Linked DNA regions of Homo sapiens. The protein of the gene in region 5 interacts with the protein of the main gene of each other region in a pairwise test. Each region holds a gene or a part of one and is shown on either strand. Other genes may lie near its edges. The genes, in order: RWDD4, XIAP, NUP43, CAPN15, HEXB, ZBTB16 and UBQLN3.

What was found.
Region 1: the proteins of HEXB (region 5) and RWDD4 interact in binary tests that used the Homo sapiens proteins (3 or more experiments, as listed by UniProt).
Region 2: the proteins of HEXB (region 5) and XIAP interact in binary tests that used the Homo sapiens proteins (3 or more experiments, as listed by UniProt).
Region 3: the proteins of HEXB (region 5) and NUP43 interact in binary tests that used the Homo sapiens proteins (3 or more experiments, as listed by UniProt).
Region 4: the proteins of HEXB (region 5) and CAPN15 interact in binary tests that used the Homo sapiens proteins (3 or more experiments, as listed by UniProt).
Region 6: the proteins of HEXB (region 5) and ZBTB16 interact in binary tests that used the Homo sapiens proteins (3 or more experiments, as listed by UniProt).
Region 7: the proteins of HEXB (region 5) and UBQLN3 interact in binary tests that used the Homo sapiens proteins (3 or more experiments, as listed by UniProt).

What each region holds. Positions count from the first base shown.
Region 1 is NC_000004.12:183,652,686-183,656,185, forward strand, and holds part of RWDD4 (RWD domain-containing protein 4), read right to left. Parts: intron 3,290-3,500; exon of another isoform or gene 3,277-3,289; coding exon 3,196-3,276; intron 1-3,195.
Region 2 is NC_000023.11:123,898,053-123,901,552, reverse strand, and holds part of XIAP (E3 ubiquitin-protein ligase XIAP), read right to left. Parts: intron 1,061-3,500; coding exon 860-1,060; intron 1-859.
Region 3 is NC_000006.12:149,740,030-149,743,529, reverse strand, and holds part of NUP43 (nucleoporin Nup43), read left to right. Parts: intron 1-959; coding exon 960-1,140; intron 1,141-3,500. UniProt on the Homo sapiens protein: Component of the Nup107-160 subcomplex of the nuclear pore complex (NPC). The Nup107-160 subcomplex is required for the assembly of a functional NPC.
Region 4 is NC_000016.10:544,712-548,211, reverse strand, and holds part of CAPN15 (calpain-15), read right to left. Parts: exon of another isoform or gene 1,575-3,500; coding exon of another isoform or gene 1,374-1,574; coding exon 1-1,373.
Region 5 is NC_000005.10:74,716,233-74,719,010, reverse strand, and holds part of HEXB (beta-hexosaminidase subunit beta isoform 1 preproprotein), read right to left. Parts: intron 2,425-2,778; coding exon 2,338-2,424; intron 721-2,337; coding exon 648-720; intron 215-647; coding exon 40-214; intron 1-39. UniProt on the Homo sapiens protein: Hydrolyzes the non-reducing end N-acetyl-D-hexosamine and/or sulfated N-acetyl-D-hexosamine of glycoconjugates, such as the oligosaccharide moieties from proteins and neutral glycolipids, or from certain mucopolysaccharides.
Region 6 is NC_000011.10:114,241,211-114,244,710, reverse strand, and holds part of ZBTB16 (zinc finger and BTB domain-containing protein 16), read right to left. Parts: intron 2,545-3,500; coding exon 2,374-2,544; intron 1-2,373. UniProt on the Homo sapiens protein: Acts as a transcriptional repressor. Transcriptional repression may be mediated through recruitment of histone deacetylases to target promoters. May play a role in myeloid maturation and in the development and/or maintenance of other differentiated tissues.
Region 7 is NC_000011.10:5,507,158-5,511,344, forward strand, and holds UBQLN3 (ubiquilin-3), read right to left. Parts: upstream 2,801-4,187; 5' UTR 2,717-2,800; intron 2,471-2,716; exon of another isoform or gene 2,438-2,470; 5' UTR 2,402-2,437; coding exon 434-2,401; 3' UTR 143-433; downstream 1-142.

The DNA.
Region 1 (3,500 bases), on a different chromosome or scaffold from region 5:
TGTAGTCCCAGCTGCTCAGGAGGCTGAGGCAGGAGAATCGCTTGAATCTGGTAGGCAGAGGTTGCAGTGAGCCGAGATAGTGCCACTGCACTACAGCCTGGCAACAGAGCAAGACTCCATCTCAAAAAAAAAAAAAAAGAAAGAAATCCTCCCACCTCAGCCACTCAAGTAGCTGGAGCTACAGGCGTGTGCCCCATGCCAGACTTTAAAAAACTTTCTGTAGAGACAAGGTCTTCCTATGTTGCCCAGGCTGGTCTCGAACTCCTGAGCTCAAGTGATCTTCCTGCCTCAGCCTCCCAAAGTGCTGGGATTATAGATAGGCATGAGCCACTGTGACTGGCTTCCCCTGCCTTTTAAGCCAAAAAGAATACAGGCTAGTTTTCTTGTATAATGTCCCCAGATCTGAACTGATTCAAATTAAACATTTTTGGTAAGAAAACTACAGAGGTGATGTGGCATCTTCCCATAGCATCATATAAGGAGGCACAGAAGATCTTCCAGAATCATCACTGGTGACACTAAGATTGATCACATGGTTTAGGTGATCTTCTCCAGATCTCTTCAACACAAACCTTTTCATTTTGTAATTAAGGAATAATCTCGCTGGGTGAGGTGGCTCATGTCTGTAATCCCAGCTCTTTGAGAAGGTGAGGTGGGAGGATGACTTGAGGCCAGGAGTTAGAGACCAGCCTGGGCAACACAGCAAGACCCTGTCTCTATTAAAAAAAAAAAAATCATCATCGTCTGTGGGGCAACACTACAAAACTGTATGAATACCTTGTTTCTCAACAACCTTTCACCCAAAGGTTTTAGCCTTCATTAACAGTCCTTAACTGTAACTGAATCAATTATCATACTGGTGGTTGCAAAATGGTGATCTTCTAGTAAAACGGTGGAATGATACATGAATCAACATCTCATCCTTACACAGGGCTATGCTAATCTCCTCTGTATTGTTATTAAAATAAATGTAGGGATCTACTGATAGACCTGGATAAGGATTATCTGCATAATAGATGTCATTGGTTTATGTTTAAATATAGATGATAAAAAGTGATAAAAGTTACCTGCTTGATGCAATCACTACGTCCTTACTCATGGCGCATTTAGGAATAAATTATCACATGCCTCACACTGTGCTGGGTACCGAAGATACAAAGATAGAGACAAGGCTATTCCTGTCTTCAGACAGATATTTATATAACTTACAAAACTGCAATATGAATAATAGTTCAAAAGTAACAAAACAAAGTATGAAGAAATGGGGAACGGCTAATTCTGATTCAAAGTCAGAGCAGAGACAGGAGACATGGCCCAAATATTAATGTATCACAGAGAAGGCCTGAGTTAGGCCTTAAAGGAGAGGCAGGGGAATAATGGACCTGAGGTGAGAGAAAGATCAAACAATGTGTGCAAAAGCATAGTACTAGAAAAAAATACACGGGGGGAAATGTCACAACCCATTATGTCTAAGGCATGTGAGTGGAGGGGAAAGTTTGGAGACAGAAACAAACAGAAGGATTTGGAGTGTCAAGTGAAAAAATTTCGTCCTCATTTTATAGGCAAGAGGAACCCAGAGAAAAACATTTTTAAAGAAGAGAATGGGATGACAACTTAAATGCTTCAGAGTGCCAACTAGTACTGTTGGAGGACTCATGGTGGAGTATAAGGGGGAAGCTAAAGAAAGTATTAAACCGGGGAAGTCAACTAGGAGGCTACCAGACTATTCCGTGCAAGAACTGAGGGGTGTGACTCAGGCCACAGGAAGAACTTTACCCCTGGCCCTTTGACTATCAACACACTGTCTCCTAATCTCATGTATCATTCTTCTTAAATCCATCCTATGGGTCACGTCAGTGTCCATCTTATAGTACATATAAATGTCCTAGGGCATTCTGCACAACATGCTCTAAATCACTGCCATTGTGAATGAGATATTTAGGAGAGTATAGGGAAATTCTCGACCTCCCATTTGCTAAGGAGAGAGTAGCAACTGGATTCAAACCGAAGGGCCTAGGACTTAGCTCCACTGTTAACTTTGGACATTTGAGGTCCATGGTTATTACATACTTGGAGATGGTGTAAGGACTGTTAAGCTTGAAAGGGAATTGAGAACAGAAACTTATTTTCTGTGATGGTCATCCATCGATCATGCATAAGAATCATTTCTAATAGTTTAAACTGTGACAATGTTAATAATAACTGTAAATCTTTTACAAAAAAAACTTCCCCATTCCGCTACTTATAATTATTTGTGTGTTTTTTTTGTTTTTTTTTTTGAGTCCCGCTCTGTCGCCCAGACTGGAGTGCAGTGGCACAATCTCTGCTCACTGGAACCTCCGCCTCCTGGGTTCAAGTGATTCTCCTGCCTCAGCCTCCCAAGTAGCTGGGACTACAGGCATGCACCATCATGCGTGGCTAATTTTTGTATTTTTAGTAGAGACAGGGTTTCACCTTGTTGGCCAGGCTGGTCTAGAACTCCAGACTTGAGGTGATCCGCCTGCCTCGGCCTCTCAAAGTTCTGGGATTAAAGGTGTGAGCCACTGTGCCCCGCCTACTTATAATCATTTGAATAAAAGGTTTATATGACTTATTTACAAAATAAAATACTGTTACTATTTTTTTTTTGAGACAGAGTCTCGCTCTGTCGCAGTGGCTTGATCTCGGCTCACTGCAAGCTCTGCCTCCCGGGTTCACGCCATTCTCCTGCCTCAGCCTCCCGAGTAGCTGGGACTACAGGCGCCCGCCACCATGCCCGGCTAATTTTTTGTATTTTTAGTAGAGACAGTGGGGTTTCACCATGTTGGCCAGGATGGTCTCGATCTCCTGACCTCGTGATCCGCCCACCTTGGCCTCCCAAAGTGCTGGGATTACAGGTGAGAGCCACCGCGCCCAGCCCTACTGTTACTATTTTATGTTAAAGATAAGATTAAATAATTTTTAAGGTTTTTTCCATTTCTAGTATCTTATGATTCTGGTACAATAAAAACAAGTTTATCTTGGTTTTTTAAGCTTCTGAATTAAGTTTTCAAACGTTAAAAATGACTGATGTTAGGGTGATGTTTCCATTTAAATGCTACAGAAAATACAGACATAATAAATTTAAACAAGTTTAAAAAACAAAATAAGCATTTTTAGCCACTTTCAGTCTTTTCTAGAAAAGTTCTAAGTGCTCTTATTCATGCCATGTCTTACCCTATATTGAAAAGAAACTGGACTTAATTCCCGGAAACTTTCATCTCCTTCATAAATAGAGCGTAATGCTTCTAGTTCCATCTGAAATAAAGAACTGAATGAGTTTTGTTTAGTGGTATAAATGAATTAGAAATAGAGGGTCTTTACTTTCTCATTCAAGCCCACTCAACTATGTAAAAGCTTGACTAACTTATATAACCTTAGATACTTACCACATAGGTGCATGCAGCAACACATGACAATATTACTACCAATGATACTTACTTTCAAACTCTGTGTCAGGGACTACTAAGCACTGTACAATG
Region 2 (3,500 bases), on a different chromosome or scaffold from region 5:
GTAGGAGAATTCTCATCTTTTTGGAGGGAGGATGGTCAAGAGCTTAGAGAACTATTACAGGTAAAGTACCCAAAAGTGTACTCAGTTTGAAACTTCTTCTTTAACCTTCGATGTTGTTGGCAAGCACTACAGTGTCCATCATCCTTAAAGGAGAGATACATATATTTTGAGACAAGATCTTGCTCAGTTGCCCAGGCCGAAGTGTAGTGGCATGATCATGGCTCACTGCAGCCTTGACCTCCCTGGCTCAGGTGATCTTCCCCGCTCAGCCTCCCAAGGAGCTGGGACTACAGGCACACACCACCATGCCCGGCTAATTTTTGTATTTTTTGTAGAGACAGTTTCATTATGTTGTCCAGGCTGGTAGAACTCATATTTTTAATCTTTTTTCCATGATTAATGTAATGATATTTGGAAATGAGGCCTTTGGGAAGTAATTAGGTTTAGATGAGGTCATGAAGATGAGACCCCCCCATGATGGGATTAGTGTTCCTAAAAGTAGAGGAAAAGAGACCAGAGTACTTGCTCCATCTTGTCCCATCCAATCCCAACCCATGCCATGTGAGGACACAGTGAGAAGGCAGCCATCTGCAAGGTAGGAAGAGGGCCCTCATCAATAACCAAATCAGCCAGCACCTTGATTTTGGAGCCTCCAAAACTGTCAGAAATAAGTCTGTTGTTTAAGACACCTAGTCTATGGAATTTTATTATAGCAGCTTGAGCAGACTAACACACAGCATTAAGGTTACGTTTAAAAAATGTCCATATCCACCTGTCCCAGCCTCCCAAAGTGCTGGGATTACAGGTATGAGCCACCACATCTGGCCCTTTCTTGCTTTTTAAAAACAGCAATGCATACCTTTCTGTAATGAAGTCTGACTTGACTCATCTTGCATACTGTCTTTCTGAGCATTCACTAGATCTGCAACCAGAACCTCAAGTGATTTATAGTTGCTCCCAGATATCTGAATTTTTTCCTCCATTATTTTCTTAATGTCCTTGAAACTGAACCCCATTCGTATAGCTTCTTGTACCATAGGATTTTGGAAGATGGTATCATCTGAAATAAAAATTGGTGAGGAAAAAGAACATAGAATTTAAACAATTATTTTCATTATCACAACTCAATAGCAAAATATAGTTAAAATGAAAAAATTAAGGAGCAAGCGAAAGAATAAAAACAAACCAGCAAAGCAAAGCTGCTTTGGGAAGATTTTTTGAAGTATTCAGGCACTGAAAAATCACTTTCAGAATCTTACAATTAATTGTAAATGCAATGAGTATGTATTTTGTAGTGTTTGAAACGATGCAAGGTAAAATAGGCAAGAAAAAGGTTAAGTGCTTCAAAAATCTGAACTGTTTTGAATCTAGCTGTACTCATTAACAATTAACCTAAGTTACTTAAAGAGTGGATGTTGTTACTGAGTCACTAGCAATTATTTGGGGAAAATGATGGGAAATCAGGGAAGTCCCAGTCTATAACCTTGAATGTGTCAATTTCCTAGCTCTCAAACTTCGTTTCTGTAGCAGAGCGGGTAGGACTGAATAAAGCAAGAAAGTCAATGGAAACTTGTTTTTATGATACTTAAAGTAGGAACACAGCATGTGTAGGGAAGTGCTAGGAGAGGACACTTATACCCTCTGACTCATCAATTCCACTCTTGGGTATTAAAAATGAGTGTATATCTCTGCCAAAGATATGCACAAGAGTATTCATAGTAGTGTTATTTATAATAGCCCCAAACTGGAAACAACTCAAATGTCCATCATCAGGTGAACAGATACATAAATTGTGGTATATTCATACGCTACACAGCAAGAAAAAAAAAAAAAACTATTGCCACAGACAATATGGATGGATCTCATAGATATAATGAGCAAAACATAATCATAATTCATCATTATGACACAAAAGAGTACCTACTGCATGAGTCCATTTATAAGAACTTCAAAACTAATCTATGGTAATAAACAAAATTAATCTATGGTAATAGAAGCCAGAATATAACTTGGGGGTGGGTACTGATGGGGAAGGAGCATGAAAGAACTTTCTAGGGTTGTGGGAATGTTCTATATCTTAATCTGGGGGATAGTCACACAGATAAATATATATATTTTAACATATACATTTTAATATATATTTAACACATATTTAATATATATTTTAACATATATATGTTAAAATTCATCAAGTAGAAAACTTACGATTAGGGTACTTTAAGCACTTTATGTGTGTATGTGTGCGTGTGTATATATATACAAAATCATATATATATACAAAATCATATATATACAAAATCATATATATATACAAAATCATATATATATACAAAATCATATATATATACACAATCATATATATATAAAATCATATATATATAAAATCATATATATATATATATATATATTTTTTTTTTTTTTTTTTTTTTTTTTGAGACGTAGTCTCGCTCTGTCACCCAGGCCGGAGTGTAATGGCGCGTCTCGGCTCACTGCAACCTCCACCTCCCAGGTTCAAGCAATTCTCTTGCCTCAGCCTCTCGAGTAGCTGGGATTACAGGCATGCACCACCACGCCTGGCTAATTTTTTTGTATATTTAGTAGAGATGGGGTTTCACTATATTGGCCAGGCTGCTCTCGAACTCCTGACCTCGTGATCCACCTGCCTCAACTTCCCAAAGTGCTGGGATTACAGGCGTGAGCCACTGCGCCCGGCTACTGTATGTATATTATAGCTCAATAAATGTTTTTTGAAAGAGAGGAGGCTGGGTGCAGTGGCTCACACCTGTAATCCCAGCACTTTGGGGAGGCCAAGGGGGATTCCTTGAGGCCTGGAGTTTGAAACCACCCTGGTCAACAAAGTGTGACCCTATCTATATTAAAAAATAAAAATAAAAGATAAGGCTGGGCATGGTGGCCCACGTCTGTAGTCCCAGCATTTCGGGAGGCTAAGACGGGCAGATCGCTTGAGCCTAGGAGTTCAAAACCCCGTCTCTGCAAAAAATACCAAAAAATAAAAAAAAAAATTACCCGGGCATAGTGGTGGGCGCCTGTAGTCCCGGCTACTCAGGAGGCTGAGGCAGGAGAATGGCGTGACCCCCGGAGGTGGAGGTTGCGGTGAGCCGAGATCGCGCCACTGCACTCCAGCCTCGGTGACGGAGCGAGACTCCGTCTCAGAAAAACAAAAAAACAAAACAAACAAAAACAAACAAACAAAAAGAAAAACTCTGTTGGCAGGTTATAATACAGACAAAAGACCAGTTAGGAGACTACTACAATTGTCCAGTTGAAAAACAAGGAAGGGCCTGAACTAGAGCAGAATAAGTGGGAAAGTCTGAAGCAACATTAAAAAGGTGGAATCCATCAAATTTGATGATTAATTAAATGTAAAAGGATTACAGAGAGCAAAGAGCTTAGGAACAACATAAATTACTGGGCAACCTTGTGAACTGTGGTACTATTAACCAATACAGGAGAAAAAAGTGCAGGATTAGATTCAGTCT
Region 3 (3,500 bases), on a different chromosome or scaffold from region 5:
TCCACCTTCTGAGTTCAAGTGATTCTCCTGCCTCAGCCTCCCAAGTAGCTGGGATTACAGGCACGTGCCACCACGCCCGGCTAATTTTATATTTTTAGTAGAGACGGGGTTTCTCCATGTTGGTCAGGCTGATCTCACCTGACCTCAGGTGATCAGCCCTCTTCGGCCTCCCAAAGTGCTGGGATTACAGGTGTGAGCCACCGCGCCCAGCCAAAGGTAACCTTTTCTAATAGACATGCCTAGTTAATATAAGTCCCAGTTCATGTTAAGGGTTTTTTTGAGTCATTTAGAAAAAGCTATAGAGATTAATATTTTATTTATTTTATTTTATTTTATTTATTTATTTTTTTTTTTGAGACAGAGTCTCTCTCTGTCACCCAGGCTGGAGTGCAGTGGTGCGATCTCTGCTCACTGCAACCTGCATCTCTCTGGTTCAAGCAATTCTCACACCTCAGCCTTTCAAGTAGCTGGGATTACAGGCGCGTGCCACCACACCTAGCAAATTTTTGTATTTTTAGTAGAGACGGGATTTTGCCATATTGGCCAGGCTGGTCTCGAACCCCTGATCTCAGATGATCTGCCTGCCTTGGCCTCCCAAAGTGCTAGGATTACAGGCATGAGCGACAGCCGTGGGCCAGATATGTATATTTTAGATGTAGGTTAATTCCCATAAGAATACAAAGAGTTGCCTTTGAACATCCAACTGCTTGATCCCTAAAAGTCATTACTGTAGTTTGAGATAAATGTGGGGCATTATTAAACAATATTCCTTTTGTATCTAATTCAGTGTATATAGAACTTTGATGGCAGTAGTTTCTAGATTTCATTATTCTAAAGGAAAAAGGAGAGATTTATTCTTGTAGAAGGGTGTGAGTCAGAATTTAAAGATACTCTTGTTGGGAAGAAGTGCTAATTCCTTAGTACTTTGCTTTAATAGTATCCTCATTTCTGATGCCTAGACTCTGTCAGTCAACCAGCAGTGGACTACAGCTCACTACCACACAGGCCCTGGCAGTCCTTCCTATAGCAGTGCACCATGTACAGGTGTTGTGTGCAACAACCCAGAAATCGTTACAGTTGGAGAGGATGGTCGAATAAATCTCTTCAGAGCTGATCACAAGGAAGCTGTAAGAACCATAGGTAAGAAAAATCCCAGCCTGGCCAACATGGCGAAACCTAGTCTCTTCTAAAAATACAAAAGTTAGGCTGGGTGTGGTGGCTCACCCCGGCAATTGCAGCACTTTGGGAGGCCGAGGCAGGTGGATCACCTGAGGTCGGGAGTCCGAGACCAGCCTGACCAACATGGAGAAACACCGTCTCTACTAAAACTACAGAATTTGCTGGGCATGGTGGCACATGCCTGTAATCCCAGCTACTTGGGAGGCTGAGGCAGGAGAATCGCTTGAACCTGGGAGGCGGAGGTTGCAGTGAGCAGAGATCGCACCATTGCACTCCAGCCAGGGCAACAAAAGTGAAACTCTGTTTAAAAAAAAAAAAAGAAAAGTTAGCCAGGCGTGGTGGCGCATGCCTGTAATCCCAGCTACTCAGGAGGCTGAGGCAGGAGAATCGCTTGAACCTGAGAGGTGGAGGTTGTGGTGAGCTATGATGGCACTCTGCAGTCCCACCTGGGTGACAGAGGGAGACCCTGTTTCAAAAAAAGAAAAATCATTGTACTCCTTTCATCCATCAGAGTAATTGAGCACTTACCATATACTAAGTAAATACTGCCAGGCACGGTGGCTCATGCCTGTTACCCCAGCACTTTGGGAGGGTGATGCAGGCGGATCACAAGGTCAAGCGATCAAGATCATCCTGGCCAACGTGGTGAAAATCCGTCTCTACTGAAAATAACAAAAATAAGCTGGGTGAGGTGGTGTGCATCTGTAGTCCCAGCTACTCGGGAGGCTGAGGCAGGAGAATCACTTAAACCCGGGAGGCAGAGGTTGCAGTGAGCCAAGATTACACCACTGCACGCTAGCCTTGTGACAGAGAGAGACTTCATCTAAAAAAAAAAAGTAAACACAATGTTAAGTGATGGAGGGATGTAAAAATATATGGCCGGGTACAGTGGCTGACGCCTATAATCCCAGCACCTTAGGAGGCAAAGGCGAGCAGATCATTTGAGGCCAAGAGTTTGAGACCAGCCTGACCAATATTGCAAAACCCCATCTCTACTAAAAATACAAAAATTAGCTGGGCATGGTGGCACAGGCCTGTAATCCCAGCTGCTTGGGAGGCTGAGGCATGAGAATCGCTTGAACCTGAGAGACTGAGAGGCTGCAGTGAGCCGAGATCATGCCACCGCACTCCAGCCTGGGTGACAGAGCAAGACTCTGTCTCAAAAAAATATAAAATATATGTACACATGTGCACACACAACGCAAGGCAGGATCCCTTTGTCAAGACAGTATGTTGATGAGACCAGTATGAATGACTGACTAGAGGAAACAGAAACCTTTTTTTTTTTGGTGAGAGGGCATTATCAGATAAAACATCTGGAAGCAGGTAGTAATTAATAGTTTTTCTAGGTTCTAGACCATAAGTAATACTAAAAGATGGCGTGCTAGACAAAGGGAATAGGCCAGAGGCAGGATAAAGACATTCAGAGAATGACAAAAAGTATAGTTTGACCCGACTTTAGATATTTATTTAGGAGAGATGAAAGATGAAGCAAGAGAGAAGTAAGCTGGGGCCAGATTGCAAAGAGTCTGTAATGCAAAATCACAGAAGTTACATCTTTTAGGTGGAAAACTAAGTGTATTGGTTCTGAACTATGCTTCAGCCAGACTTCTCTGAGGAAATTTTTTAACTGTCGACCACTCTAGACCTTTTAAATCAGAATCTCTAGGAATTGAGCCCATGAATCCATTTTGTATGTGTGTGTTTTGTTTGTTTGTTTGTTTAGATGGAGTCACGCTCTGTCACCAGGCTGGAGTGCAATGGCACGACCTCAGCTCACTGCAACCTCCACCTCCTGGGTTCACGCGATTCTCCAGCCTCAGCCTCCCGAGGAGCTGGGACTACAGGCGCACGCCACCACACCCACCTAATTTTTGTATTTTTAGTAGAGACAGGCTTTCAACATGTTGGCCAGGATGGTCTTGATTTCTTGACTTTGTCATTCGCCTGCCTCGGCCTCCCAAAGTGCTGGGATTACAGGCGTGAGCCACTGTACCTGGCCTTTTGTGTTGTTTATTATGATTTTCATTTCTGAGTTAAGTTGCATTACTTTTTTTTTTTTTTTTTTTTTTTTTGAGACAGGGTCTTGCTCTGTCACCCAGGCTGGAGTGCAGTGGCATGATCCCAGCTCATTGCAACCTCTGCCTCCCAGGTTCAAGCGATCCTCCCACCTCAGCCTTCCAGGGATGTGGGACTACAGATGCACACCACCATGCCCAGCTAATTTTTGTAGAAACGAGGTTTCACCATGTTGCCCAGGCTGGTGTCAAACTCCTGGGCTCAAGTGGTCTGCCCACCTCGGCCTCCCGAAGTGCTGAGAT
Region 4 (3,500 bases), on a different chromosome or scaffold from region 5:
TGCATGCTCTCCCTGCGCCTCAGGGGCGCGGCCCCCCGCCGCTGGGCCACCAGGAGCTGAGGCGTGTGGCAGGCGGCGCAGTGCTTGGCCCGCAGTGCGTTGAGCAGGGTACAGGCAGGGCAGGCCCACTGGCCCGGGCGCTCGGGCAGGACGCGGGCGGCCTTCTGGGCCGAGGACACCCGTCCGCAGCTTCTGCCGCAGGGGCTGGGCTTGTCGGCCCCACAGTCGGGGCAGTGGGTGGGGGGCTCGCCATGCTCCTGGAAGCCGTGCAGTTTGGAGCAGCCGCAGGCCGAGCACCTGGGGGCCACTGTGGGGTTTCTGAGCGTGCACTTGGCACATGACCAGGTGGTGAAGTCGGGGCTGGAGGGGCTGGCGGGCGTGTAACGCACGGTGTCTCCGGCCAGGTCAATGATGTCACTGCCCGAGGTGGAGCTGCCGGCCTCTACGCGGCTGGTGCCACCCTCCGTGGCCTCTTCCTCCAGCACACTCAGCCGCTTGCCAGACAGCAACTCTGCTAGGCGGGAGGCCCCAGCCCAGCCCGAGCCCTGGGGGGCTCCCCTGCAGCCGGCAGAGGGTGACGGCTGGGCAGCCTCAGGCACCGGTGGCTGCAGCTGGGGGGGAACCTCGCGTCGGCTGCGCGGCACGGGGTTGTTCTGCAGGGTGGACGAGAAGGGGCTGAAGGGCGGGACCCTGGGCGGCTCTGGTTCGGCAGCTGGGCCCTGGCTGGTGGCTGGGGGGTTGGCCTCGGCACCTTCCCCGGGGAGGCCAGGTGGAGGCGCGGCAGGCACGACGTGGAAGCCGGCCGGGGCCACCACTTCCGGGACCACCAGGGCCTCAGGAGGGATCCGTGGCAGCGAGAGCCTGCGTGGGCCCCCGCAGACGGAGCAGGAGCTGGCCACGGGCGTGTTGTGCAGCGTGCAACGCGGACACGCCCAGCCCCCTCTGGGCTCCGCCGCTCCCTCCTCCTCCTCCTGCTCCTCCTTCTCCTCCTCGTCCTTGTCCTCGCACTGCCCCCTGGCGGGCTCCGTGGCCACCAGCCCCGCAGTCCTCACTGGACCTGCTTCCTCCTGGCAGCTGCCCTTGGGCTCCCCCAGGATGGCGGGTGGCTTGGGGAGGACCCCGTTGAGGACTGGCAGGAAGGCAGCCCCAGGCGCAGGCTCCGGGGTGAAGCCGCACACCTCGCAGGCCTCCTTGCCCAGGAAGTTGCGGAAGGTGCAGCGGGCGCAGGGCCATTTCTGCTCCTCCACGCTGAGCCGCAGGATGTGGTTGAGGTCGGGCTTGTGCCGGGGAGCCTCGCAGATGGAGCACTGGCGCTGGCCGGCCGGGTTCAGGAAGGTGCAGCGCACACAGGACCACTCTCCGACCGTGGCCATAGACCCGGGCGAGTGGGTGTGGCTGCAAGGGAAGGTGCTCATCAGGGCCACCCTGTGAGGTCCTGAGTGGCTGGACCCCACCCTCCTCTCGGCCTGGGGAAGGCACCCGTCTGTGGCTGCAGAGCTACGGGGCCGAGGGCCTAGGGCTGAGCATTTGAGGCAGGCGGCGGTGGGGGCTGCCTCCACCCAGAATGGATCCATGGCTCAGGGCCCCTCTTGCCCGTTGGAGGCTCAGCAGACCCCTTGAGCCACACAGGATCCTACAGAGAGGGCTGAGCACCCCACAGCCGGGCTGCTGTTCCAGGGCACTGCTTTCTCTGTCACCAGGCCTGTGGACGGCAGATAGCAGGGGGTCCCGGCCAAACTCAGGACCAGGTCGTCCTGGGCGTGGAAGAACAGGTGCTCAGACCTACGGAAGGGCAGGTGCATGGGCCGGGGCCTGGGGAAGGCACAGGCTGATCTGAGCAAGGGGCCTCCCCACACCACAGCACAGCCTCCGAGACAGACTGGCTGCTCTGCCTGGCAGAAAAATCAATTGTTCTTGTAAATATGGCCTGAATCTTGTGCTCCATCTAAACCCTTTTGGTTCAGGAAGAAAGAAAACCTGCCTCTTCATAAGAAGCACAAAAACAAAAAGTCTCCGCGAGCAACACGGGTGTTCTGTGGAGCCGAGCGAACTCCGTGATGCTGCCTTCCCTGCGCTCAGCCCCGCGTGGCGAGGGCTCTGAGCTGCCCCTGGCAGAGTGGACGGGGGTGGACTGGGCCCGGCGAGGCTCAGGGCGTCCAGCTGGAGCAGAGAGACCCAAGGCCGGGAATCTGCTCTAACAGCGGGCTTCTGTGAAAGCCCAAGCAATCTGCCCGTAGACAGCCAGGCCTCTCCCCGCCATCACCACTCGGAGAAGGGCATGGATGCAGCTGTGGCCGGCGGGCTCCCGGCCGCACCTGCACGTTCCTCGGCCTGGCTGCCGAGGCGGCACAGCCCAGGCGTCCGGCCTGGGCCCCTGTGGGTGGCACAGTGGCCATGATCTTTGCAGCCCCCACTCCGGGAGGTGCCTTCACAGACTCTGCACCCCGCTGACCGCAGGTGCAGGCAGAGGTGGGCTGGGCCTCCTGGGACACACCCTCCCTTTGGCCCTGTAGTTGTCACCGACTAGCAAGGACAGCCTCACCAGCTCCAGAGAGGAGAATGAGAACCCGGGTCCCCAGGACCAAACAATCGCCAGCGGGGTGTGTCTGCTGGGAGACACCTTTCGGAGTCATCCTGGCAAAACCCAGGTGGGTCAGGAAGACGTCTGCACTTCAGGAGGGTTTCAATGAAGTCAGAACAAGGCCTAAAGTTCAAACGTGGCCCCGGGACACGGGTGAGGAGGGCGAAGGCAGGCCACGGCCCTTCTGTGGCTGGAGACGCTGAGGGGAGTGTCACTGACCCCGCAGTCTGCGCTGTGCCGGCCTCTCTCGGTGGGCCGAGGTGGAAGGGGGCCAGGGGTCAGGGGTCAGCGGTGGGAGACCTCGGCAGGGCCCCCACCCTCCCTGCCCTTCTGCCCTGGTTCTGGTCTCCACAACCCCCCAGCCACTCTAGGGCCACCCTCACCTCTGCAGGGCCTGGGCAGGTTCATGGGCTCAGAGACCCGAAACCCTTACAAAGATGTTGTTTTGAACTTTAGAGATGGGGTCTGATTGCCCAGGATGGTGCAGTGGCTCGCGCACGGCTCACTGCAGCCTTGACCTCCTGAGGCCAGACCGCCAAAGCCTGGAAGTAAAAGCTCGCGTCAGGAGCCCAAAGACCCAAAGCCAGGCCTGAGCGAAGCCCTTTTGGAATTCTCAACCCAGAACGCTCCTGAAGTCGCAGCCACACGTGCTCAGCAAGGAGCCCTCACTACTGCAGGATGGTTACCTTCGAAGGGAGCGGGCTCAGGGCAGACGACGTGAGGGGAGACGACGACGTGGGGGGAGACGACGACGTGAGGGGAGGCGACGTGGGGGAGGCGACGTGGGGGAGGCGACGTGGGGGAGGCGACGTGGGGGAGGCGACGTGGGGGAGACGACGACGTGGGGGAGACGACGTGGGGGAGGCGACGTGGGGGAGGCGACGACGTGGGGGAGGCGACGTGGGGGAGGCGACGTGGG
Region 5 (2,778 bases):
ACAGTAACCCACAACACTTGGACCAACTGCTTCACTTACCGCCAAAATCAAGAGGTTCCACTTTATAGTATTTCCTCCAATCTTGTCCATAGCTAATCAAATCTAAGTACCAAGGAGCAGAAAGGATTACAGGGAAGCCAGATGCTGTGACTCTACTGAGTTCCTCAGGATATGCGCTGTCTTTCCATACTTCAACTATTGTGCCCGGCGCAAGCTATTAACGTTACAAATTGCAATACATATTATTAGGCCTAGAACAGTAGATGAAATTGAAAGTTTAAGGCATTATTACTAGGAACATAATTTTCTAAGATCCTTAAAAAAAATCTGCATTTTCTTTTTCCTCTTTTCTTCAGAGTTAGTGCCATGTGATACTCATTTTAGGGACTTAAAAGTTTCATCAACCTTAGGTTTGAATATTTAACTTTTGCTTATATATGGATACCACATAGGTTCAGTTAACTAAAGCTGAGACTTGCATTTTAGTCTTATTTCTACCAAACCTAGCTTGGAACTATGAGGTCCAAAGTGGTCACTAACTACACTAGAAAGGTAATACTAGTAGTTAGACTTGCAAATTCCCAGTTGCCCCAAGAAAAATAATTAAGTCTCTTATATTGATCAGATGCAGTCTTCACAATGCTCACCTTTGCTTTATCATCAAAAACCTCCTGCCAGACAATGGATCCCTTGTTTATGGTTGCAATAATATCCAAAACCCTAGTATTACAAAAAAATTATAGTTATTTTAGATCATAAGCTTAACAATATATTTAAAACATGTACATTTTCTACCAAGGATTTCTTGCATTTTGAGAGGTGCCTTTTAGTATAGTTCAGCTTTATAGCAGAAGCAGCTCAAGTTGGGAAGTGTCACAAGTAGTTCCTCCTTTTTAGCACTTGATACAGAACCTAACATAGTATGGGGGTTTAATAATCATTTGCTGAATGAATGAGTTAAACATGCCCCTAAGATAGGAAGAAGTGGCCTCAAATTGAGTTGGTAGGCAACTCAGGAAATTGTACAAACAGCAATCTCTTACAATTTTATGGCTGTCTTAAAATGGTAGGGACCACGATCTAGCCTGTCATATCACATAAATTACATGTAACAGTTACTGACAATCCACAAATATTTACAGATATTTACATAATGCCAGGTGCTCTGCAGATAAATAACACTTAAATGCATCACACAAAAAGCTGAACAGGCAAAGGCTGGAATCTGGGCTTGCCAAATAAATGGTACAGCATAAGGGTTGGCAACTACAGCTTGCAGGCTGTTTTTGTATGTCTCATGGGCTAAGAATGGTTTTTATATTTGTAAAGCATTTTTTTTTAAGTTTTAAAATTTGAGGTTTTTTTTAAGTTAAAAAAAAATTGTATGTGGTCCATGGGCAATTGTATGTGGCCCATGAAGCCTAAAATCTTTACTCTCTGACCCTTTACAGAAAAAGTTTGCCAATCCCTCTAGAGCAGCACGGTCTAGTAGAACTTCCTGGGATGGAAATGTGTATATATATATATATATATGCATTTTTCAGTATGGCAGTCACTAGCCTCAGCTGGCTACTGAACACTTGACATGTGGCTAATGCAACTGAGTAGCTGAATTTTTAACTTTCATTAATTTTAATTAATTTACATATGGACAGACACCTGTGGCTATGGCTACTGTATTGGGTAGCACAGGTATATAGTAAAATATATGTTCCTGGAATTGACAAAATGGAATGAATTCCAGGGGCTGGATGGTAGTGAAGACTTCACAGGGTAGCCAGGGCTTCAAGCTGAGTTTTATATTTATTGATGGATTGATTGATTGATTGATTGAGACAGTCTCACTCTGTTGCCCAGGCTGGAGTGCAGTGGTGCGATCTTAGCTCACTGTAACCTCCATCTCCCAGGAGATTCTCCCTCAGCCGCCCGAGTAGCTGGGACTACAGGCACCTGCCACCATGCCTGGCTAATTTTTTCATTTTTAGTAGAGATGGGATTTCACCATGTTGGCCAGGCTGGTCTCGAACTCCTGGCCTCCGGTGATCCACCTGCCTCGGCCTCCCAAAGTGCCGGGATTACAGGTGTGAGCCACCATGCCCAGCCCAATCTGAGTTTTTAGAACAGATGACTGCCTTCCTATATTTCAACAGCTATTGGAAAATACTTGGAGTCACCATGTTACTGATTTAAAGCAAGCAGTGGGTATTGCCTCCTTTAGTGATTTTTCACATCTACACTTAGGCAAAGGATGTAGAGAAAATGTAAAAAATAAAGCACATTACTAAATAAACTTTTACAAAAAGCATTAATACAGAAATAGGCTTTCAAACAACTTACTTTTGAATGTAGAAAGATTCTAGTTTCTTAAAATCTGTGCCAAAGCCTTTTTGCCTCATGAAATCTTGAATTTTTGGATTTGATTCCCTGAAGCAAAAAGTGATTAAAATTTCATTAGAAGTTTGATATGCTCAGTTTATTATTTAGAGCAGTATACATGCCTAACATCAGTTGTGCAGACTTAAAACTATTAAAGTTTGTAGGTAGTAAAAAGAAGCCTAAAAACTTAATTACAAGTTATCTTAATTATCCATTGCAAACAATTTTTTCAAGAAGCTGATTTCCTTTAAAAATGGCTTTCTTTACCTTACCACCTTTCTCCTCCATCTAAAGCTATTTGCAGAGAGAATTTTTATTTGAAAAATCTTTCCTATTTAATCATTGATTGCCCTCTTTCACTAAAGGTGTTCTCATTTCACAGTAGTCTTTTTTTGAATCTCC
Region 6 (3,500 bases), on a different chromosome or scaffold from region 5:
AATAGGAAATTCTTGAGTCTGCCCAGGGAAAAGAATAAAAAGAACTTAGAAGGAAAAACAAACAACAACAAAAAAAAAAGAAAGAAAAAGTCACCAACACACACGTATCCCCATCCCGATTTGGAAGCACGGTGTGCACCTGGCGTGAAATCTTCACCCTGAGAGCTGATTGTGTCAGTGTGGCCATAATGTACACAAAACTGGCTGCAGAACTCAAAATCCAATTTGTGGTATGTTGATTAACTCTGTAGCCTCTTTAATGAGCTTGACATTAAGTGCAGGACAAACGAGACTAATTAGAGCCCCCTCCAGCCTGCCCAGTGCACCTGTGACCCCGCCCCCCCCAATCTGTCCTTACTTGGTGCTTTCTCTGGCACTGGCCAAGCCCAGTGTCTGTCGTCCTCCCCACCCCAGCCCCATCCTGCTGGCTCCTCAGGCCCCTCCCTTCCAGCCCCTCCCTTCAGCACAGCTGAGAGTTTATTATATGATGAGCCGTGTGAATCAGGGATCCATCAATGCCAAGAGCACGGCTGGACTAACCTACCAAACACAGCTGCTGATGCTAAACACCCGGCCCCAGCAGCAAATGGGCCAAGAACAACGGAATATTAATGAGGCATTGTGTGTGGGGTGTGCACAGCCTGTATATGGCTTGTGTGCGCAGTGCCTCGCTGGTGTGAAAATTGATGGGTGTTTCTCTGTGTGTGCATAGGCAGCACACATGCTCCGTGTTTCCTAGAATAAGCAAGGGCTTCTCCCTAACTCTGGAAACAGCCCCTCCCCGTGGATCTGAGCCATGACTGACACAAGAGCATGTGACATTTTCATATCTGAGCTCTGAGAAGGTGGCATGGTCAGAGCAGGGCACATCCTGGGTGGATTTAGCAGGACTGAGATCATTCAAGTCACATGAAGCCAACTGATTGGACCCAGTGGCATGCTCAGAAGTGGCTGAAAGGTATCTAGCCATCTTTCATAAGACCGAATGAACCTGGGGAACTGTTGAGGGAGGCGTTCATAGGAAGGTGCATATAGCTGCAGGGGAAATGCTTACGCAATCGCTGTAGAGAAAGTCCTTGTCAACATCCCACTCTCCTGGGCCCTTTTTATTGAGCCCACCCCTCTGGGCCCTACCTCCGTCCTGTCCCAGAAATTTTAAGTAGTTCTGTGCAAATCTGGTGATGCTAAGACAATGTGCTCCCCTGAACAAAATGGCATCCAGAAGTGACAGCCAGGAAGGCTCCTTAATGAGGATACCTGCTGCTGGCTGGCCAGGCCAGCTCAGTCCATGAGAAGTAAAGCTCTTCCCTTATTTAGCAGAGCCTGCCACCCATGCAAGACCTGGTCTGCATACTCAATCTCTGAGCTGTGACAAGACTCTCAAAATGAGGAGAGGGCCTACTGTTCCTTTACGTGGCATGCAGAGGTTTTTACAAGTATACGCTCTGTTATATACCCAGATAGAGACCTGACCCCAACCCTCCCTACAAACACAGCACACAAAGGCAGACTCAGAAATGGGCATTCCTTTAACCAGGTAGTTTCAGCAGAGCCCCAGTTTTGTCATAGAGAAAATAAGGAATTTAAGCCATCCACTCCCCTGTTAGGGAAAACTGGGAGCTGCTGCAGGAAAGCAAATGCCTCTTGGCCATCAGGGACCAAGTGTCCCCATCCCTCAAGCCCTAGAGGCTGGTGGCAGGGAATGGCCAGCCCCTCAGCACCTGGCCCAGCCTCCTTACCTTGTACCCCCTCCCTTGTCCCATCACCTGGAACTGGCTGAGCAGTGATATTTCATTGCTCATCGTTTAAATGCCCTCCTTGTCTTCCCTAAACAGGGTTAAGGTCCAAGTACAGGCCTTTGTTACTGTGGGGAAAGTAGGATCACTGCTTCAACTTGCCCTCAGAAGCCCGAAGCTGACTTCAGAAATGTGTATGGATAGAGCGGCGGGGCATCAAGAGTGGTGGGAGGCAGGGCAGACAATGTTAAGAGACCCAGCAGGTCAGTTTTTCTCAAAATTCATTTTGGGTCTACCTACATGAGAATCCCTTGGGAATACATATTAATAATGCTGAATCTGGGACCCCACCCTGGACCCATGGAATAAAAGGTTCTGAGAGTGGGACCCAAGAGCCTGCCTTTTTAATGAGCATCCTGTGTTGAACACGGAAAGACTTTGAACCGACGGTCCACAGGAGGGGACTGGGAGAACTGTCCACATTTACCTGCACGACGGGCAGCCTCTGCACGTCCAAGCCTTGAGCAGAAGGACTGAAGGCTGACTCAGCCCACCACCTCCACTTTACGTCCTTGGAGGTAAATATAGACGCTGGCTCCCAGAGACCCAGATCCACCCATCAGCTGGACTGACCTACCTGTATGTGAGCGCAGGTGGCGTTTGAGAGCCGTGTGGCTGGGGAAGGTGCGGTTGCACTCACTGCAGATGTAGCTGCGCACGCCCGCGTGGACCTCCATGTGCTGCTGCAGTGCGCTCTGCGCCTGGAAGCGCTTCCCACACAGCAGACAGAAGACGGCCATGTCAGTGCCTGTGGGAGACAGGAGAGGGGGTGCCTCAGAAAGGTGGGAATACAAGGTGCATTCTTTACCCATCTGGAGTGAGAGCCAGTGTCGGGACTCACACCTCCAAATCCCCATGCTCAGGGGCAAATCCAGAGTGGGCCCAGGCTATGCAACACTGAGCACCCAGTATGTGGCCCCAGTGATGGGCAAAATCGACGTCGTTCCCGAGCTCTGGAAGCTAAAGCTAAAGGATAGACATTGATCAAATACATCGCAGCAGCAAGGGTAGTGGGCAACTGTGTCGGGTGGTATGTAAAAGGCGGCAAGGTACTAAGACAGCATATACCAGATGGACTTCACAGAGTACAGGGCAAAAAGTGGGGGAGGCAAGGTAGACCCTGCGAGAAAAAACAATAACAAAGATACTATGGGCCAGCCATTGTTCTAACATAACTAATATAAATCCAAAACTCAAAAAGCTAGCCTCTGTTATCCTCATCCCTTAGACAAGGAGACTGAGGCACAGAGAGATTAAGTACTTTGGCCAAAATCCCACAGAGCAGTGGTCCCCAACATTTTTGGCACAAGGGACTGGTTTCATGGAAGGCAATTTTTCCACGTATGGTTGGGGGATGGCTTTGGGATGATTCAAGCACATTACATTTATCATTAGACTCTCATAAGGAGTGTGCAGCCTGGATCCCTTGAATGCACAGTTCCCAATAGGGTTCATGCTCCTGTGAGAATCTAATGTCGCCACTAATATGACAGGAGGCGGAGCTCAGTTTCACTCGCTCGCCTCCTGCTGTGCAGCCCAGCTCCTCACAGACCATGGCCCGGGGGTTGGGGACTCCTGCCATAGAGTTCGTAAGTGGCAGGGCTGGGGTTCACACTCACACACCCTAGATTTTAATGCTTTCCCAAGACTAGCTACAGATCCTGTTTTGTTTTTTTTTTTTAACTACTTCTCCACTCACTAAAG
Region 7 (4,187 bases), on a different chromosome or scaffold from region 5:
CATACCTGTGAGTCTTCTAACTTCAGACCTTTTAGTTTCCCTCCAAGTCCTTCCATCCATGTAGAGACAGCCCTTATCACTACTTCTTCTCCCATATCCATCCTTTTTCTCATAGCCCACATGAATGAGACTCAGGCAAGAGTTCACATTGGAAATTGGGTGTAATTGCATCTCAAGATAGGCATAAGCAGAGCTTAGACTGGGGCCCCCCAGTGGTATAGTGGTACAAGTGGTTGACTCACACACAGCACCTCCACTATGTTTTGGCCATTAGTCTTCCTCGTTGACTCTGGAACAACATTGCCTCCACAGCAAAGGACTTCATAGTAAATTTGGTTTATAATGCAGCTGTATTCAAAAATGGGAGAGCTAGGGAACTAGGATATGGGAAAAAGGCACAGAGGAAAACGTATGGTTTGAATGAATAAGGCTCCTACGACTGTCTCAGCTTCTCCACAGCAGCATCCACGTCGCCCCCCGTAGCAATGAGGGCCTGAAGATTGGCTTCACGATTCAGAAAGCCCATGGACCGCAGTTGCTCCAGCTGCACCTGAAAGTGAGCCTCAGGCTGCAGCTGCTGGGGATTTGTACTAACTAAATCTTGCAGCATATGGAGAAAGGGAGGGGAAAGGAAGCCCAGCTCTGCAGAGTCCAGTGCTGGGAACACCTCAGGAGGTGGATTTGGGAGAGGATCCTCAGACATAAGGGGATCTTCTCTAGACTCTATACCTCCTGCCACACTACCCGTCCCTGCTAGGCAAGGCATGAACCAGAGTAGGAGGCGAGGTGCTTCAGTAGCTAGGACCTGTAGACCCTGCTCAATCTGCCGCAGGGCTTGCAGGGCACGGGGGTTTGCCATGGCTGCCTGAAGGTGCATCAGCAGTGGCAGCTGTGGTTGTATCTCATCCTGTAACTGTGGAGCTGGATTCATGCCATCTGGCCTCAGAGATCTTGGATAAGCCGGGGATGGCAGCCAGGGAGGCTCAGGGATTCCAGGAATGGCTGCCGTGGGGGAAAAAGATAAGGGAGCAAATGGAACCCTGTTGGCAGAATCTCCCAGCCCCGAGACAAGATCAGGCAAGTTTGTGCTATGTCCAGTAGAGCTTTTCCCTGCACCATCTTGGTCTCCACCTTGTCCAGTACTGTTCTCTGTGGGGTATCTCAGGAAAGCTGGGCAGGAGGACCTTCCCTTGATTGCTACTGACTCCTCGGGGAGAGGCTGGCCTGACCCAGGCTCCTGAGATGAGGGTGACGATGGGGGAACTCTGTTTACTGATGGTGGTGGTTCCTGGCTTTGGCTGAGGGCAGATGCAGTCCCCTGTAGATAAGTTCCTAGGGACTGGGGGTTCTCGTGTAATTGCTGGAGATAGTCATAGAGCCTTATAATACCCAGAAAGTTTGGAAACCTATTTCTAATGTCAGGTGCATCCTGATCCCCATCCTGCCTTCCTTGCCTGCTACCTGAGCCTCCATGTGTGGAAGTCCAGGGGTTGGGGAGAGGGTCACAATTCTCCATCCTTGAAGGTTGGCTGGTGGTGGTGGTGGCATTATCAGTAGTGGCAGTGGCAAAGGGATTGCCGCCAAACTGCTCCTGGACTGCGTTAAGCATTGGGTCCATAATATCTGTGTACATAGTGCAAAGCACATTGTAGCCACCAGGAATGCTCTCCAAGTTACTGAGCACCCGGTCCTGGCTACGTATCATCTCCTGCATCATGGCAGGGTTACGTAAAAACTCCAGTGTCTGCCGCATAATTTCCGGGTTGTTAAGAATATGCCCAATCTCAGGGTTGTGCTGGATCAGCTGCTGCATATGGGGGTTGTCAAGAACCAGCTGGCGTACTAGGCCTGTGTTGGACAGCAGACCCGGGATGAAGGGGTCATCAATGAGCTGAGTCACAAACTCAGGCACAGACACATGCTGCCGCATCAGGGAGCTTGGCTGGTCAGGGAAGCCACGATAGGCCAAGCCCAGCCTACTGAGGCCTGTGAGGAGACCTAAGCTAAAGGCAGGGGGCCCATCTGCTGGGTAAATGGAGCTTGGCTGAGGGAGTGATCCAGGACTTGGGCCCTGGGTAGGGACAGAGGCAGCTGGGCACTCATTGCCCATGGCACGGTGCTGCCTCTTGATGACCAGGTGGACAGTGAGGCCATCTCGCACTCCACACTGTGCCAGTGAGTCAGGATCCTTGAGGATTTTGCCAGCAAAGATTAGAACAAGCTGATCGGGGTGGGCCTTAAAGCGCTGAGATATCTCTTCCTTCAGCTGCTGGATAGTGCATGTGTCTGTAACTGAGAAATCCTCCTTGTCTTTGGGCGTCTTCACTGTCACCTTGATGAGGTGGGGATCCTGGACTGGTGCTGGGCTGCCCTGTGGCAGGGCTTCTCCACCTTTGGCCATGGTGGCAGCAGGAGGCCCAGATCTGTGGGGACACAGCTAGGGGCATGGGGATTGGAGACCAAGATCATCCTTTCAGGCAATGGCAAAAGTAGGAAGGGTGAGTATGAAAAGGGTCTTGAATATCAGGATAGGGAAATCTGCAGGGTCTACATGAAAGGGGCCATGAGGTTTCTGGGGCAGGATGCTTTAGGAAGATTGCGGGATTGAGATATGTTGGAATCAGGGGAGGGAAATGCAGGGCCCTGGGAAAGAGGTCTGTAGTTGATGAATACAGGGACAAAGGTAGAAGGAAGGGCCCAGCTGGGGTGTACATACCAGTCAGCTGTGGTCCCGTCCTTCTCTTTATGCAGGGCTCCAAACCTCCCTCATCTTGCTACACAGCCACCCCTGAGGCCTTCTGGGCCAGAACCCGCACTATCAGGTCCCTTCTGTGACCTCAGTGCTGACGTCACAGCCTCACACAGAGAAGATTCTTGAGACTTCTCTAAGGAGCTCGGGATCCCTGGGAACTCTTGCTCTCCCATCTTTTACCACTTCTACTTCCTCCACCTCAAGTGCCTTCCTGTGGAGACTTCTGTGGAGGCTCAGACTGGGATTGGAATGTTATAAAACATCTCTCAGTCCTCTCTGTCTCCATTCAGACCCACATTCAGCTACTTCCTGGTCCAGGGTCTTCTTCCTGGTATCCTATGTCCCAGTTTTCTGTCTTATTCAACATTAACCATGAATTCTTTACGTATTTTCAAAGTATTGATTCGCTGATGGATAGGATTTGGGGTATAAGGGAGGAGTCAAGCATGAGATAACTTTTTTTTTACTTTAAAAGAAATTGTTATCCCCAAAGGAACTCAAAGGATTGAATATTTACTAAGACAAAGATTGGGAATAAGCACTTTGTCTAAATTAGCAGGTTGTTAAACAGTTTTACATACATTTGAGATGTCTATTTTACATACAAATGGAGATGTAGTATTGTAGTTTAATATTATAAGTCCAGAGTTTATTAGCATTCAAAGGGTACTTAACATCATGGACTGGTTTAGATTAGCTAGTTAGTGCATACAGGCAAAATGATAGAGATTTTAAAATCTGAGTTTTGTGGCTGTATAACATTTAGAAATCTGGAAGATCAGAAGAATTTGGCAAAGGAAACGGAGAAAAAATAAAAGAGTAAGGTAGAAAAAAAGAGAGAGAAAAGAGAAAGGCCAAAGGAAGAAGAGTTTCAAAAAGGAGAGAGTAACCAATCATGTGAAATGATGCTGCTAGGTCAGGAGGATGAGGATTGAGAATTGGCCACTGGATTTGAAAAAATAAAGAATTGGAGACCATGATGAGACTAGCTTTGGAAGGATAGTAGAGGCAGGAAGCCTAATCAGAGTGTGTTTAAAAGCAAATGGTTTGGGAAAAAGTAGATCCAGTTAGGGCATTTTAAATGCAAGAAAGGGGATGACGGCTATGTGGGGATGTGGGGTTAAAGGCTTTTTAGATTTTTTTCTTAAGAATAGTGTAATGATGTTTATATTCTGATAGAAACAATCCAGTGAGTAGAAAAAATTGATGCATGAGAAAGGGAAAACTATTAAGTTCTTGAATAGATAAGTTAGAGAGATTGGGAGCAAGTGCCTATGTGGAGAGCTTGATTTAGGAATATGAAGTTTATTCATGATAGCAGAATGAATGGGAGGCAGAGTGTATTGGGACAGTTGTAAGCTAGTTGGTTGATTTCATGGTAGACACAGGTAGAAGTCCCTTCTGATTATTACTGTCTTTCTTGTTGAAATAAGCA